Linked DNA regions of Homo sapiens. The protein of the gene in region 2 purifies or fractionates together with the protein of the main gene of each other region. This does not show direct contact. Each region holds a gene or a part of one and is shown on either strand. Other genes may lie near its edges.

Region 1 (3,006 bases), on a different chromosome or scaffold from region 2:
CTCTAATTTCAGTTTACATGGTCTAAGATAAAAATGGTTCTGCAATACCTGAGTATGCCACTCATGGGAATAACAGAAGGCAGCCTAAAGATCATGCTGGAGTGGGGCTGGAGAGGATAAAAGGTTTGGGATTACAATTTCCCATGTGTTGTTTTTACAGAAGTTCCCTTCAAAGACCAGAGCTACAACTACTGCCATTTGCTGGTTGGAAAGAAAACCATTCATATGATAACTGATGCTTATATCAGGAAGTGGTGGTTTCTTAAGTTTTAATTAAAATCACCACAGTTGAACCCTGAAATTTGTATTCTAAACCAAATCTCCATGGATTCTCATGCAGCCAGTTCATACACTGGAGAACTGTTATAAGGCTATGACAGATAAGAGGTATTATTTTTCTCCATCACTAAAAATAAGGCAATTTAATTAGGCAAATGACCAGTTGTAATCCCAGACTACTATATAGAGTTGAAGCTACTTAAAAAAACAAAAACCCAATATACCAGGCGGTGAAACAATTTTATTTCACAGTTGTCTTTAAAACCACAAAGACACCTATGTTCTTCATATAAAAACATTAGTATAGATACCCATACTTTCTAGAAAATGATTATACAGACCCTTTCAAAGAAAAATGTATTCCATTATATAGGTTTCAGTGAGGTTGCTTGGAAAAAACTCACATCTGGACTGATTCCTAAAACATAGCATTCCACCACTCTGCAACTTTTGGTTCAAAGTATAGATTATTGTCATCAGTATGTGGTGCCTGTATTCTTACATATTTGATAATACATATATAGACTGGCTTATCACTTAATGTTCCATTGGTTCATCAGCCTTTTCTGCAGGTTCATCAGCAGGTTGAGCAGGCTTAACAGGGAAAGAAAAAAAGAAAATATGTAAAATGAACACTTGATCAATATACACATCTAATCACAAATATTACGTTATTAAAAATTGAGAAAAAGGGGTAAAGAGATATTCTGAATACTCAGTTTTAGTTCACTGTCCTGTTAACATTTCTGAGCAGTATTTTTTTTCTCCTTGAGTGCTCATGATTTGAGGGAATAAAGATTTTTTATTTAAAAAAAATACAGTTGGCTCGAACAACAAAGGTTTAAACAGTGAGGGTCCACTTATATGCAGATTTCTTTTTCTTTTTCTTTTTCTTTTTTGTTTGCTTTTACTCTAACATTGTTTAGGGTGAAGCTTTTTTTTGTTTGTTTGTTTTCCAATAAATATAAACTAGCAGACCAACTGTGTAGCCTAGAAATATAAAAAAAAAGAGTAAGAAAAAGTTAGGTATGCCGAATGCATAAAATATATGTAGAAAATAGTCTATTTGGTCGGGTGCAGCAGTTCACACCTGTAATCCCAACACTCTGGGAGGCTGAGGCATGAGGATTGCTTAAGCCCAGGAGTTTGAAACTGGCCTGGGCAACACAGTGAGATCCCATCTCTACTAAAAAGAAAAAAAATGTGCTGGGCATGGTGGCACACACCTGTAGTTTCAGCTACTTGGTGGCGCGGGGGAAGGTAGGAGAATCGCTTGAGCCCAGGAGTTCAACCTTGCAGTGAGCTATGATGGCACCACTGCACGCCAGCCTGGACAAGAGGGCAAGACCTTGTCTCAAAAAACAACAAAAAAGAAACTAGTCTATTTATGTGTTAATTGTCAGTTTATGTTATCAGTAAGGCTTCCAGTCAACAGCAGGCTATCAGAAGATTTTTAGGAGTCAAAAGTTATATGTGGATTTTCAACCATGCTGGGGTTTGGCACCACTAAACCCCACACTGTTCGAGGATAACTGTATATATAATTTCACATTTCTGAAAACCTAAATATCATTGAACAATTCCACCATTTTATCGTACTTTGCATTGCTCAGGAATAAAAGCTTTCCTTGTATTATCACTACTATGTTTAAAATACAATCAGCACTTTTTAGACATTCTTTTCCCCTTTGCCAAACTAGTTTGTGGTATTCCACAGCATTCTTCCCAACAGTGCTAGTTTTTACCAAAAACAGTTTAAATATTGCAAATCTTGATCCCCCAAATAGTACCAACAATATCCTTTCCAAGTTAAAAAAACTCATGCTGTAGAAATTTCCATACTAGATTCTTTTTTACTTTCAATTACACTGCTATCAAATAAGCATCTATAAATAGCAAATGTATATTCTAAACATCTAGCAAAAAGACCCATATTTCACCTGAGATTCACTTCTTGATGCTTTTCTCTTTATGAAGAGCCATCTTAGTGTCCAAAGCTGGCCCCCAATGAGCATTTCTCCCAGTCTCTGCTCAAACAGAATCTGGGCCAGGCCAGTGACTCACTTTAACCAACAGAATGTGTACAAGTGATGTTGTGCCAGTCCTGCATCTCAGCCTTAAGAATGCCTGGCGGCTTTCACTTCTGACTTTTGCAAGCCCTGAGTTGCCAATATGCTAGAGAGACCCTGCTGAAGAAGCGGCCCTGAAACTACGTGGACAGAGGCTCAGTCATCCTAGCAGAGGTCTCTGCCTTCTAGATGCTCCTCTAAGACACCTAAAAGGTGTGAGTAAAGAAGACATGTGACTGAAGTTATCTTGGGTGTTCCAGTTGCACCCCACAAATGACTGCAATGTTTGAGAGATCCCAGGTGAGACCAGCAAAGAACCATGTAGGTGAGCCCCAGTCAGCCGCAAAATTGTGAGAAGTAGTGTTTGTTGTTCTAGCCCCTAAGTTTTGGGGTAGCTTATTACCTAGCAATAGATAACCAAATAATCAACACTTCTCCCTTTTTGTGTTTGTTTTTTTTTTTTGAGACAGAGTCTCTCTCTGTCGCCCAGGCTGGAGGGCAGTGGTAGGATCTCAGCTCACTGCAACCTCCGCCTCCCGGGTTCAAGCGATTCTCCTGCCTCACCTCCTGAGTAGCTGGGACTACAGGTGCATGCCATGACGCCCAGCTAATTTTTGTATTTTTAGTAGAGACGGGGTTTCACCATGTTGGCCAGGAT
Region 2 (3,500 bases):
AGTAAAAATCACATTTCCTAGTTGTCTGTGTCAGACAACTTTACTAGTATACTATAGTATTATTAACTACCTTAATTTTTGTTGACATTAAATTTTACTTGAAGATGATAAAAAAGTAGCAGCAATGACAGGGATAGCTAATACTAGAAATACAATAAAGCTCTGCGATAATGCACCTGAGACAAATGTAAATTTTGGTGAAATGTGACTGACGACTGCTTTCTGTCTTCTGGCCACTCTTATATTCTTAAACAGATACACTAAAATTATCTTGTGGAGGAAAGAAAAGGAACAAATGGCAACCCCATCTGGAAAACCAGGAAGTTAGGATGAGTACCTGAGTTTCCAGTATTTCCCTGCTCAATCTCCCTGGACTTGATGTTACAGGCACCACTAATCCCCAGATTTTTGGAATAGCTGCTGTTTTCCAGAAGTTCCAAGACCCAGAGTTGTCTCTATGAATTTTTAAGTGGGAAGAAACTACCACAGCCAGGCAGTGCCGTCCACACAGGGATATTCTAAGTGGCCCAGCAGGACTCAACTCTTACTGGCAACAGGCACTGATCTGCCATGGTCACTTCATCAAGTCCACAATAATGCAACTCTGAATTTTACACGATGGAATTTTTTGGACACTACCTATAATTTTATGGTATGGTTTTACTGTACCATTACTCCCAGTTCAAGACTGCACATCCACACTTATTATTGGGTATCTCCACATTTCTCTTGTTCTGGTCTTTGTCCAACACTCTATTCTCTTCTGAATGAAAGAAACTTTGGATTTAGTTTTCAAGATTTAGAAAACCCATTCTTTTTCAAAGATAGCATGACCATTATATAATACAACCGATACTTTGTAGAACACATCTATAAACTTGCACAGGAACAACAAAAGTATAATACTTATATAAGATCAGAAATGTCCATGTGTTCCTATGCTATATGGTATCATTTTTTTCAGTCACTTTTAAAATGAATTCACTGAACTGTATCATGATATCCCCATTATTAGGTTTTTAATCTAGCAGCCCAACTTACCCGGACAAGTGCATCATCTATGATATGGTCACGTCTAACTTTGAGTCTCAAATATGGATTCAACTGCTGTCCTTGAACTAAGCTGTAGAGAACAGTGATTCTTCGTTCACTGTACATGCGAATTCTATTGTCATAATATAATCCCAAATTCTTTGTGACAGCATTCAATATAAAGGGACATGTCATAAAAGAGAATTTGTTCTCTGTTTCTACTTTGAAAAAAGTATAATCTTTATCCATTTCTAGAACCTCATTCAGTGGTTCATTAATAAACTCTTCAAAAGGGATAAGTGGTTTTCGACAATCCAGGGTTTTAACACCAAGTTCAGTTTCCAGGGGGTCCACTCGAGGACCTTTCTTGTTTCTTCTTTCTTCTCCCAAAAGTTCCTGAAGTGTCAGCTCGCTGGACTCAGGGATGGGCTCTTCATCATCTTCTTCATTGTGATTTGTGTCCACTTCCCCTCCCACTACATTTGCATAGTAAACCATTTTCAAGCACTTCGAAGCAGCAACAATGGCATCATCATCATTCACTAGATTTCGACTGTTAAATTCATTGCTTATGACTTTATAAGTAATAAGTTGCTGAAATGTCTCCATCATTCTCCGAATCTGGTCTGCATTGTATTTAGACCACAGTCTGATCAGTTTTCCTTGGGCTGCAAGGGGTAGCTTGCTCATCGCTTTGCAAAATAATGGCAAAGCCATTTCCAGATATTCAGGACTGTGGAGATTTCTATTCTCCATTACGATAATGAACAAATTCAGATAATTAGGATCTCGAGAGTATACATTGTGATACGTCAAGTCACATTCCACGTTAGGTGACAAATATACAAGTGCATTGAGAAAGGCAGTTTCAATTTTTTCATTAGAGAGCAATCTGGTGTAGACCCTTCTAATGGCATCAATATCCACAGACACATCATCAGGGCCTAATTTTTGCAAATTGTTGTCTCCCTGTGAGCTATCACCTATCCTTGAGGAAGATGCTTCTGAGTCTTCTTCCATAGCAGCAGCAGAACATGCAGCTTTTTCCTTTTCATCTTCATCTTTGTCTTCATCTTTTGCTTGAAGAGATTTCAGTTCTTCCTTGGTGTGTTGTTTAACTTTCCGGAAGCTCTGTACCAATGCCTCAGCACTAGAAAAAACTCTTCCAATAACACGGATTAAAGGGGAATAATCCTCTCTTTCTCTACATAATTCAAGAATTTCATATACCTTCTCTTCTGTTAAGTAAGTCACATCTAGAAAATCAGAGGAAAAAAGAGAACATTTATTTTCATAATATGTATGTTTACTCTGTTGCAAAAAGTTCTAAAAGTAAAACAGCCAAACATTCTAGGCTCAATATCATTTATGATATACAACTCTTAAAGTATCTAATACTTAGATTCAGCAAACAAAATTTAATGCTTACCTATTTTTTTCAATGAACTACCTACCTATACCAATGACCTCACCCATGCTTTTACATTCTTTCAACAATGTATAACTCTTAATAAGATCATGAGTTTAAACTTTCTTTATAATCAAGATATCTATTAATGTATAGCTTTAATTATAAATATGAACCAATATGTCATGTACTGATTAATCATAATACAGCTCTTAAAACCTCACTGTAGAACACACAGAAATACTACTAATCTGTGAGTTTTCTTGTTTCAGTACTCTGTTCTCCAAAGACTAAGAAGGCAAGGTCTTAAAAAAAGGCTCCTTCAGCATCTATGTATGTATTAAAATCAAACTGGTTCATTTTGGGTCTTCCTAGTTTGTTCCAGGGTAGTCATTCTGTGAGTGATTGAGAAGAATATACCATTTCTCATCGGCTCTTAAGTAGAAACTGCTTTCCACAGCCAGGAATCAGGTTAGACTAAATCTCATAGAGTGACAGAAAATAGTTTTTGAGCAATGAAAACAAACAGTGCAAAGAAGTAAACTTATGAGCTGGCAAGCAGTGCAGAGACTATGTAGTCATCAAAATCTATTTCCTCTTTTCCTGGGCACAGAGTTGGACCACATTTCCCAACTTTTTGAGATAAGTGTTATTTTCAGGCCAAGGCTTTCTCCCTTCTGGCTAATAGGATGAAAGATATTTCATTTCACAGGTAAAAACAAATGATATATTTTGTGTACTGACCAACATAATACTGAGAATAGTCTTAATTCTCCCTTTTATCAATAAAGTGACATACTTGTCATCATCAGATTAACTACTTGAGAGGTTAATTTTAGAGGCACACAGACAATCCTACCTCCATTGCGCCAAATATACCCTTATACATGTAGTGTACAACATGTAGAATTTTTAATGACTCCCACCTCTGCTATAATATATGTTTCACAATGAAAGACAATATAAAATGTAAGTGATCATTGAATGGTCTCCAAAAATTGAAGCACAAAAATACCAAATTTTATCATACTAAGGATCTGATCTGTGGCCCAGCTACAAG

The links. The genes of interacting proteins can lie anywhere in the genome.
Region 1: the proteins of UBE3A (region 2) and PSMA1 purify together in Homo sapiens (affinity purification with mass spectrometry; 4 studies listed by BioGRID, with this or other methods). This does not show direct contact.

The regions. Positions count from the first base shown.
Region 1 is NC_000011.10:14,504,376-14,507,381, forward strand, and holds the end of PSMA1 (proteasome subunit alpha type-1), read right to left. Parts: intron 874-3,006; coding exon 817-873; 3' UTR 501-816; downstream 1-500. UniProt on the Homo sapiens protein: Component of the 20S core proteasome complex involved in the proteolytic degradation of most intracellular proteins. This complex plays numerous essential roles within the cell by associating with different regulatory particles.
Region 2 is NC_000015.10:25,369,525-25,373,024, forward strand, and holds part of UBE3A (ubiquitin-protein ligase E3A), read right to left. Parts: intron 2,289-3,500; coding exon 1,042-2,288; intron 1-1,041. UniProt on the Homo sapiens protein: E3 ubiquitin-protein ligase which accepts ubiquitin from an E2 ubiquitin-conjugating enzyme in the form of a thioester and transfers it to its substrates.